3 linked regions of the Homo sapiens genome follow. The protein of the gene in region 1 purifies or fractionates together with the protein of each later gene. This does not show direct contact. Each region holds a gene or a part of one and is shown in the gene's direction. Other genes may lie near its edges.

What was found. Proteins that work in one complex are often made in the same cells at the same time.
Region 2: the proteins of PCDHGA6 (region 1) and ITFG1 purify together in Homo sapiens (affinity purification with mass spectrometry; one large-scale study listed by BioGRID and IntAct). This does not show direct contact.
Region 3: the proteins of PCDHGA6 (region 1) and GOSR1 purify together in Homo sapiens (affinity purification with mass spectrometry; one large-scale study listed by BioGRID and IntAct). This does not show direct contact.

Annotation. Positions count from the first base shown.
Region 1 is NC_000005.10:141,376,891-141,380,390, forward strand, and holds part of PCDHGA6 (protocadherin gamma-A6 isoform 1 precursor), read left to right. Parts: exon of another isoform or gene 1-2,755; intron 2,756-3,500. UniProt on the Homo sapiens protein: Potential calcium-dependent cell-adhesion protein. May be involved in the establishment and maintenance of specific neuronal connections in the brain.
Region 2 is NC_000016.10:47,157,064-47,160,563, reverse strand, and holds part of ITFG1 (T-cell immunomodulatory protein isoform 1 precursor), read left to right. Parts: intron 1-1,573; coding exon 1,574-1,691; intron 1,692-2,959; exon of another isoform or gene 2,960-3,009; intron 3,010-3,500. UniProt on the Homo sapiens protein: Modulator of T-cell function. Has a protective effect in graft versus host disease model.
Region 3 is NC_000017.11:30,483,908-30,487,407, forward strand, and holds part of GOSR1 (Golgi SNAP receptor complex member 1), read left to right. Parts: intron 1-306; coding exon 307-394; intron 395-755; coding exon 756-863; intron 864-3,500. UniProt on the Homo sapiens protein: Involved in transport from the ER to the Golgi apparatus as well as in intra-Golgi transport. It belongs to a super-family of proteins called t-SNAREs or soluble NSF (N-ethylmaleimide-sensitive factor) attachment protein receptor.

The DNA of each region.
Region 1 (3,500 bases):
GTTAGCCAGGATGGTCTCGATCTCCTGACCTCATGATCCACCCGCCTCGGCCTCCCAAAGTGCTGGGATTACAGGCGTGAGCCACCGCGCCCGGCCGAGGGTATCGTTTTTATTGGTTGACAGGAAAATTCAAGATTGTCTTTGATTAGTGCTTAGTTTTCTTAGCCCTTTGCAGAGAGTCACATAATTCTAATGTTTTTCTTTTATATCAAAAGAATGTTCTGAAGTCTTAATTTTGTGGGGGAAAATAATGCATGTCCTAGTTTTTCTTTACCTTTCTCTTCTTGGCAAACTATTTGTGTCTTGGATTGAGTACATCTCGTTTCTTAGGTTTTTTCCTACTATGTGACATTTGTAAGGTTCTTTCTTTTTCTAATGTGGGAAAAAAAATAACCTTAATTTAGGTCAGTGTTAAAGATCAAGATCTTGGTTTTAGCTAGCATGGTGGTTCACGCCTGTAATCCCACCTCTTCAGGAGGCTGAGGCAGGAGGATCCCTTGAGACCAGGAGTTTGAGACCAGCCTGGGTGACTCTGTCTCTACCAAAAAGAAAAAAAAGTAGCCAGATGTGTGGCGTACACCTGTAGTCCCAGCTACTCGAGAAGCTCTGATAGGAGGATTGCTTAAGTCCAGGGGTATGAGGCTGCAGTGAGATATAATTGTGTCACTGCACCCTAGCCTGGGAGACAGAATGAGACTTTTTCTCTCTCTCTCTCAAAAAAAAAAAAAGATTTTGTTTTTTCTCAGTGTTACTTGATAACTATAAACGACAGACGTTCATACAAGAGATCTTTCACCTTTACTACTTAGGAATCAAAAATTATTTTTGAAAAGATAAGAATCATTGGTAACTGCAGCAGGGGACACCAGATCTTTGGTGTTAAAAGACCTGAATAACATTCCTGTAACTATCTGTTATTTACTTGGGCCAGTTACAATCGCCATTATCTTCCAATTAAAATTAAGATTTAAAAGACTTCTCTTATCAGAGATAGGATCCCCCTCTGTTGCCCAGTCTGGAGTAAAAATCCACCTGTAACTGCTGCTTATAGAGTGTGTATCCAGGGCAACTTGAATCTATGTTCCTGGGTTGCAATCCTAAAGCTTGGCTCAAATAAGCTCTACTTATATTATTTTTTAAAACAAGACTTTCCTTATCTATCTGACTCAAATTCTAAGAAAATAATTTTATAACTTTTTTTCAAACTCTAAAGCAGCATAGTGAACACGTATTTGTTGACATCACCATTATTATAATTATTGGGTTGTTAACAATAACTAAGCACCGATGCTGTGTGCCTACTACAGTGTCTTTTGCATACTGTGTGCCTGATAGTATTTAAGAGTGAAAATGGCCGGGTGCGGTGGCTCATGCCTGTAATCCCAACACTTTGGGAGGCCAAGGCAGGCATCTCACGAAGTCAGGAGTTCGAGACCAGCCTGACCAACATGGTGAAACCCCGTCTCTACTAAAAATACAAAAATTAGCCAGGTGGGGTGGCATGGGCCTGTAATCGCAGCTACTCGGGAGGCTGAGGCAGGAGAATCGCTTGAACCCATGAGGCAGAGGTTGCAGTGAGCCAAGATCGTGCCACTGCACTCCAGTCTGGGTGACAGAGCGAGACTCTGTCTCAAAAAATAATAATGATAATTAATAAATAAAGAGTGAACATGAATTTTAAAACATGCTCGGTAGTGTCTGCTTACAGGACATATCTCTAAAAATAGATGACTGACTGGTGAATGGGAGAACAAATGTTAATGAGGTTCAAATAAAAATTTAAATATTTTAGCATTTTAACCCAGACAATAAGGCTTTCATCATATAGGAACTCTTTATTGAAATATTTCAAGAAAAAAGGGATTATCATTTAGAAGACTGATTAGTCTTATTTATTATGACTGAAATGTGCAAACAGAATCATTGTTTCATGAACAGAAAACAGCAGAGTTTTTGACTGTCAATGATGTTCGAATAGAAAATGGATCACTAAGGAGATAGGAGATTCTGTTATCGACAGTCTTCAAAAGTAAGTTGATGGCCCTGGAATGAATGGAGTACAGGGGATTCTCTAATTTGATGACTTGTTGAACTACATTATAGTCAAGATTTTTCTCCAGTCATGAGTTGGAAGATTCTACAATCTGGTGGTATTATAGAATGGATTGGCCACTTGTGCATCTGAATTTGTTATGAATGTGTAAGAAAAAAGCAATTGAGAAGATACCTTGAAAATAAATGAGAACCTCCTTTGTAACCTGACTTTGTCAGTCTTCTTAAAGATAACATTGAGTTGATGTGTTTTTAAATAAGCTGCTAAGAGTAATATGTGTTTTTCTGAACCAATATTGTGGTATTTACATTTAAGGAATTGTTATAGATTTATTTATTTCAAGTTTCCAAAGGTATATACCTAAACAAGAGATCTAATCATACACATCTTCAAAGCTCATTTTCTTGTATCTTTGTGATATAATTTGATAAAATAACAATTTTAAACAACTTGAATCTTGGATATTAGTCTCATGAGTTAGATGGGCTGTTATACATATGATTATTTCATAAACTCTGAAAGTGTGAATGTTATTTTACTATACTACCAATTTGGGATGTTAAACTACATCTTGAGCATTTGTTGTTATAGGGAAAGCTCACTAACTACTTTTCATGGAGATCAGGCTGGTTTATTTTATTCTCTTATTACCTGTGACCATTTCATTTAAACAAATAAAATATTTCTCTGATGGAAAAACTACCAACTTCTACTCTCACAAAAGTCATTCACTCATGTGGACTGACCAACTGTTAAACATCCTGGCAGTCATGGAATTTGCTAAGTTATGGCTAAATGAGGTTCTTTAATCCACCTGCAATACAGATCATTAATAATAAGATAGGCTATCTGAGGTTTTGAGAGTTCAGTATAGAATTTTGAAGCATCAGGAAAAAAAACTACCAAATTATTGTCTTATTCTTATTTTATGGTCTGTGAAAGCCTCTTTTTTTTTTTTTTTTTTTTTTTTTTTTTTGTCAGAGTCTTGCTCTGTCTCCCAGGCTGGAATGCAGTGGTGTGATCTCTGCTCACTGCAACTTCCTCCTCCTGGGTTCAAGCGATTCTCCTGCCTCAGCCTCCCAAGTAGCTGGGATTACAGGTGCATGCCACCATGCCTAGCTAATTTTCATACTTTTAGTAGAGATGGGGTTTTACCATGATGGCCAGGCTGGTCTCAAACTCCTGACCTTAAGTGATCCACCCGCCTCAGCCTCTCAAAGGGCTGGGATTACAGGCATGAGCCACTGAGCCCGGCCTGAAAGGCATTCATTTCTGATCAGGCTTCTGTTGAGGTGGCAATTGTCAAAGGGGAAGGAGTAAAATCTCAGAGGAGAAACATTGGAAGATACCTATATCTTTGCTTGAGAATGAAAATCTAAATGGAACTTCAAAGAACTGTTTTGTTGTTTGTTTTTTAGAAAAAAAAGTCCCAAAAAAGAAAAGAGAG
Region 2 (3,500 bases), on another chromosome or scaffold:
TGTTAGTTTTCTATAGATGAAATTTACAGTAAAACTAGAAAATCTGGACCATGAGTAGGAAACTATATAAAGTACGGTACTTCTATACAGCTCAGTAGCATGATTTTTTTTCACTGCCACGGACATAGAACAGTCTCTTAAGATGGAGTGGTAAGCAAAAAACAATAACAACAACAACAAACAAAAGAAGCAACAGCAAAATGTAGAAGAGTATGTATAATAAGCAGCCATTGTGATTTAAAAAGAAGCCATCTATACATACATGTTCATACATGTATAAAATATCTCTGAAAGGATATGCAGGAAACTGGTAAGAGTGACTGCCTCTGAGGAGAAAACTGAGGATTGACTTTTGTCTTTTTTTTTTTTTTTTTTTACCAAAACACTTACATTCCTGATTTGTTAAAAATCTATTTTAAAAGTAGAACTACCAAAAACATCTCATAAAAGAACTGTTTTCTTAAGTATGAGTATAACACTAAGAGTAGCTTTCAACTAATTAACAGTATTTGTTTTCTTAAGGTTTACTTACTCTTCTGAATTTCCAGAAAATTATACCATAGCTTTTTTCCGTAATCTCAACATTTTTCATGTTTCTCTTACTCTTTCCAAAGAAATGTTCTTTTCAAATTTATGTACATAATAAAAACCAAATTGATTTTAGTTTTTGAGGTGTATTTTGAGGTTATTGACTAGAAGCTAACTTATGGATCAATAAATTTTAATTATCCCAGAATAAATCAATAGCTACTTGCTATTTACCAGAACAGTCTTACCTTTATTAAACTTTTAAAATAAAAATATAGCCATTACCTATTTCTAGGAAGAACAAAAAGTTATGTGTATATAACAACCTTCACACTTGGTGATACAGTCCTTAGTTTTAGGCTTTCAGGGTGTGCAAATGCTATATTACATGGACTGTTTTAGAAGGAAAGAACTAGTTCTGTTTACTAAAGACCTCTAGTCTGTATATTGCCATTAACAGTGAGGGACTAAAGATGATTTTGTAAGTGATCTGAACCTAAAAGTCATTGTAGTAATGTAAACACTCCAACATGATATAAAAATTATAGAAGTTTTGCACAAGCCATCAACATTTATGTTTTACTTGGTCACATTATATATGTGACACAGGTCAAAAATAAGATGATACAGAAGGCTTCTAGGATCATGTGACTACCTTGCTTTAGAGTTCAGGTTTTCAAATTAAGCAGGTAAATCAAGATGTAAAAAAGATGTCTATGATTATCCAAAGTACCCTTGGATATGTTTACCTAAAAATAATTCTCATAGGATCAAACTTGGAAAATGAAAAATATTGAAATATCTCATCAAAAATTCTATTTCAGTTGTCTAGGTAAAATATAAACTGCAGAATCATCAATATTCTCAGCACTATCTGATTTTTAATTGTTTTTGTTTTATTTATAATGAATGGACTGATGAATGAATGGTTTAATGAATACATTGACTGTTTAATTAATAAGCTATTTTGCTTTGGGGTCTCAATATAACTTTGTTATTTTTAAATAAAATTTGTAATTTTAATTTGTTCTGTTTTTATCTACAGTTGGAGTGCCAAACTGTATCTTACACCAAGTAATATTGTTCTGCTTACTGCTATAGCTCTCATCGGTGTCTGTGTTTTCATCTTGGCAATAATTGGCATTTTACATTGGCAGGAAAAGGTTTGTTCATTTAAAGGAAGCATTAATTTTGGTTAATTTATTCTAGTAATACATACATTGCTCTTTAAAAACACTATATTTATTTTAAACTTTTTTCATATGACTAGAATTTCATCATTTTTCAAGTTCTGTTCAAAGCATCATTTTATTGATGATAATTTCTTTTATCCCTGGAAGTTACTAATGTCTCCTATCAATTCATACAAATCACAAGAGATGTCTACTTTAAAAGTTTGATGCAGTACGGTAGTAATAAAGTGATCAACCGGAAATCAAAAGGCATTTAGAAACAATTTCATAATGACCTGAAAAATAATAATGATTTTAAAAAATGAACGTGTGTTCAGTATGTACTGATAAAGCCATGGACATTCTTTGGCTAGGATTATCAGCTATCTCTTTGAAAAGAATTAGAGTGAAAAGAGGTTAAATTATTTTCTTGAGGTTTAGGTGGAAGGTAACAACTGAAGCAATAAACAGCCAGGCATGGTGGCTCATGCCTGTAATCCCAGCACTTTGGGAGGCCAAGGTGGACAGATTGCTGGAGCTCAGGAGTTTGAGACCATCCTGGGCAACATGATGAAACCCCGTCTCTACAGAATACACAAAAATTAGCCAGGCACCATGATGCAAGCCTGTAATCTCAGCTACTCAGGAGGCTGAGGTCGGAGAATCACCTGAGCCCAGAAAGTTGAGGGTACAGTGAGCTGCGATTGTACCACTTCACTCCAGCCTGGGCAAAAGGAGTGAGACCCTGTCTCAAAAAAAGAAAAAAGCCATAAACATCTTTTTCATCTATCAAGTATTCTTTGCATTAAACTGATTTCTGTTCTTTAGTATAATACTCTAAATAATAATTGAAAACAAAACTCCCAAATATGTAAAAGATTTTTATGCAAAGAAAAAAGAGGCTATCACTGTAAATTAGCAGTTTAGATATATGTGAAAAAGCTAGTTTCTATTTATATATGGGTTCCAATCAATGCCCTCAAAAAAGGGCTGCTTTGTGGCCCCAAAGAAAGGTGTTTTTCTTTTTTTGCACCTACACTCTGGATTGACATGCCATCATAATCATTTTTTGCTAGAATTACCGTGTTTGTTCTTTTAACATATGAAAAAGAACATATTAGTTGTTCTATAAATGCTCATAGGCTTGTCACTTTTAAAAAATCACTCCTTTACATATCAAAAACAGTAACATGAAGTTACATATTCAATTAACCTTAAGATTGCAACTTAAGAGTAAGATCAAGGACAACCATACATACTTGGTCCAGAAGTATCAGAATATCATCTGAAAGATTCCACAGTTCTTGACCTGTGAAGCAAAGGAAATGAATTTCATTAATTCCTCAGTAGATCTGATTACAGCATAAACATTGCGTGCTTATAACAATAATTATGCAGTGGCCAAAAATGAAAGTTTTAAGTACAAGTATATATTTGACTATATATATACTGTATCTCCTGTGGCACTGTGGTATCTCAAAGAGGTAGAACCTCTTTAACCACTTTTTTACTTAAGCAGGCTGGCTCCTTCTACCATTTTCTCAATGCAGGCTTTCCCCAGTGTCTGCCCCTGGCCCTCTTCTTTCAACACTTTCCCTGCCAATTTCATCTAAAATCATGGCTTCAGATATCCCCAGCTCTCATCTCTAAAGGTCCTTCCCCATTTCCAACTGTCACCATGATAGCTCAACCTAGATGACTTACAGCACCTCAAAACCAGCATTCTAAAGCTTCATCTCTCTTACTTAACCTACAAGATTTCATCACTTGCCTATGGACTCTGCCTCTGTAAGAAGTTCT
Region 3 (3,500 bases), on another chromosome or scaffold:
CTGTATATATTGGATTTAAAGCCAGTTCCTGAGTATTCGTTAGCTAGTTATCCAATCTGTGGATCATTTAAACCTCAATCTTATTTCCTCTTGGTAAGAGTCAAGGAAAGAAGAGAGAATGTAATGTTGAGGTTGAAGGAACCATAATTCCTTTGGGGTAAAAATGTAAAAGATCGTTTCTCACAGACCCTATATAACATAATCCATAATTCATTTTATGGCTCCTATTAATCACCTTATTATTTTAAGTATGTTTTAAAGGACTGATTTGAGTAATGGATCCTCTTTAACTGAACTTCTTTTTAGTTCTGATACAACACCCCTTTTAAATGGATCAAGCCAAGACAGAATGTTTGAGACAATGGCGATTGAGATTGAACAACTTTTGGCAAGGGTAAGTGCTTTCTGTTAAATGGCTATTTTGCAAATAACTGTATACTTGTTACGTAGGATCCTGGATTATATTGAGACAGACATGTTTATTGAAATTATCCATTCCATTCAATATGTGTACCTCCCCACACCACTTGAATTTTGATGACAGCCATTCTCAGGTGATATGATGTTATTTTGGTCTTTATGGATTATGTGGGGGAATGCTGAATTCTTACTTGCTCTCTTGTTTGTTTTTTGTTTTGTTTTGTTTTGTTTTGTTTTGCTGTCAACCAAAAGGGCATATAGGCAAATAATTTGCTTTTAGCTGTTTATAGTGCTTAGTAAAATATTTTGATTGTTTTTTTTTTCTTTATTTCTAGCTTACAGGGGTAAATGATAAAATGGCAGAATATACCAACAGTGCAGGTGTCCCCTCCTTGAATGCAGCCCTGATGCATACATTACAGCGGCATAGAGACATATTGCAGGTAATATATTGGGCTCGAGATGTTTTCATTATCACAGGAGTTTGGGTTTTTTTTTTTTTAATCCCTGCATTGGATATGTGCACATATATTTAAAAGGACAAAGAGAAAAATCTGAGAAAATAAATGCCATGCTAAAGGGACTTGTTTTACTTTTTTTTGGGGTCACCATTATAAAATTCTGAAAATATCTAATAGCTCTTGCTATTTCTTGGCGAAGTTGAGTAATATTCATCACTGGGTACATATACTTCCACTATGGGAGACCTAGCTAGCTAGCTGTAACAGTGAAATAGCCAATGGTCATGTATAGACAATAACGTGGTGGGTAAGCGTGTACTTTCAGCTAGCTTTGAAGATAATATGGAGGGGGAATTATTTACTATACTTAGTATATTGTTTAAGAAAACAGTAAATGTGTATGCACCAATAAAACTAAATAAACTTTTAAAGATTTAAATGGAGGATATGTTAAAAATATGGTAGTACAAATAGGAAGGCAATTTTTTTTTTTTTTTTGAGATAGGGTTTCTCTGTCACTCAGGCTGGAGTGCAGTAGTACAGTCACAGCTCACTGCAGCCTCAACCTCCCAAGCTCAAACAAGCCTCCTACCTCAGCGTCCTGAGCATCTGGGACCACAAGCACATGCCACCACGCCTGGCTAATTTTTTAAAAGCTTTTGCAGAGACAGGTCCTTGCCATGTTTCCCAGGCTGGTCTCTAACTCCTGTGTTCACGAGGTTTTGCTATATTGCCCAGGCTGGTCTCTTAACTCCTGTGTTCACAGGTTTTTGCTATGTTGCCCAGGCTGTTCTCTTAACTCCTGTGTATGGGCAATCCACCCCCTCAGCCTTCCAAAGTGCTAGAATTATAGGCATGAGCCGCTGTACCCAGCCACAAATATTTTTAATATTGAGAAAAGTCAGCAACTATTTCTAATTTTAAAAACTGTTTTTAAAAGTAGGAATAGATGGCCGGGCGCAGTGGCTCGTGCCTGTAATCCCAGCACTTTGGGAGGCCAAGGCAGGTGGATCACCTGAGGTCAGGAGTTGGAGACCAGCCTGGCCAACATGGCGAAACCCTGTCTCTACTAAAAGTATAAAAATAAGCTGGGCATAGTGGTGGGCGCCTGTAATCCCAGCTACTTGTGAGGCTGAGGCAGGAGAAGCTTGAACCCAGGAGGCGGAGGTTGCAGTGAGCTGAGATTGCACCACTGCACTCCAGCCTAGGCTACAAGACTGAGACTCCATCTAAAAAAAAAAAAAAAAAAAAAGTAGGAATAGAAAGATACTTTAATACAAAAATGTATTATCGGGTTAAAAGCTAGCATTGTGTTTAAAGAGAAAGCAATAAAAACATTCCCATTGTATGAAACAAGACAAGGATACCCATGATCGCTACAAATGTATAACGTTGTTTTTTAAGTTCTTGATGGTGCAATTAGACAGTAAAAAGAAATGAAATGTATGCTGGGCATGGTGGCTCACACCTCTTATCCAAGCACTTTGGAGGTCTGAGGTGGGCGGATCATTTGAGGTCAGGAGTTGGAGACCAGCCTGGCCAGCAGGGTGAAACCCCTTCTCTACTAAAAATACAAAAATTAGCGGGGCGTGGTGGTGGGTGCCTGTTATCCCAGCTACTTGGGAGGCTGAGGCAGGAGAATAGCTTGAACATTGAACCTGGGAGGTGGAGGTTGCAGTGAGCCGAGATTGCACCACTGCACTCCAGCCTGGGCAACAGAGTGACTGTTTCAAAAAAAAAAAAAAAGATGTAAATATTGGAAAGGAAGAGGCAAAATTTCTGTGAGGTAGCAGGATAAAATTATATGTCTAGTACACGCAAGAAAATTACCTGATAAAAAGTTAGAAACAATTAAATTCAGTAAGATGGTAGATCACAAAATGAATACATAAAAGCAAATAGTTTTCCTATTATGATAGGAAATAAATGATAACCTGTTAGAAAATACAATGGAAGAAACTATAAAGCATTTATATATGAATTAAATAAGAAATGTGTAGGACTTGTATGTGCAGAATTCTACTGAGGGACATAGAACAAGATTTAAGTAAAGGAAAGAATCATTCTGTTTTTGGATAGGAAGACTTTCGTCTAAATTGCATGACATCCCAGTGGAAACAGCAGGGTTGTATCGTTGTTTGTTTAATTAAAAACAAATGACATAATGACACCAAAGTTCATTTGGAATCATAGACATACAAGAACAACCAAGAAAAACAACCTGAAAATGAAGATAAGTGGTAGAGGGTTCCTAGTTCTACCAGATCTTAAAACCTGTTAAAAAGCTGGAATAGTTAAGACAGTTTGATACTAGAGAAAAAAAATAAATAAATAAAAACAATTAAACAGAGTTTATATGTAGACCCAATTATGTTTGGAAATTTTTAGTTTCTGATAAAGATGTTGTTTAAAATCAGTGGGGCAAAGAGAAATTATAAAATAAATGGAACTATAACCATTGCTTAATTATTCAGAGATTTTAAAAAAACAATTCTATCTCAATCCTCACATCCAGAACAAATTCCAAATGGATCCAAGAAGGATAGAAAAAGAAACCATAAAGCAGAGGTGAAATTTGTAAACTTTGGAGCAGAAAGGACTTTCTAAATAAGACTTGAT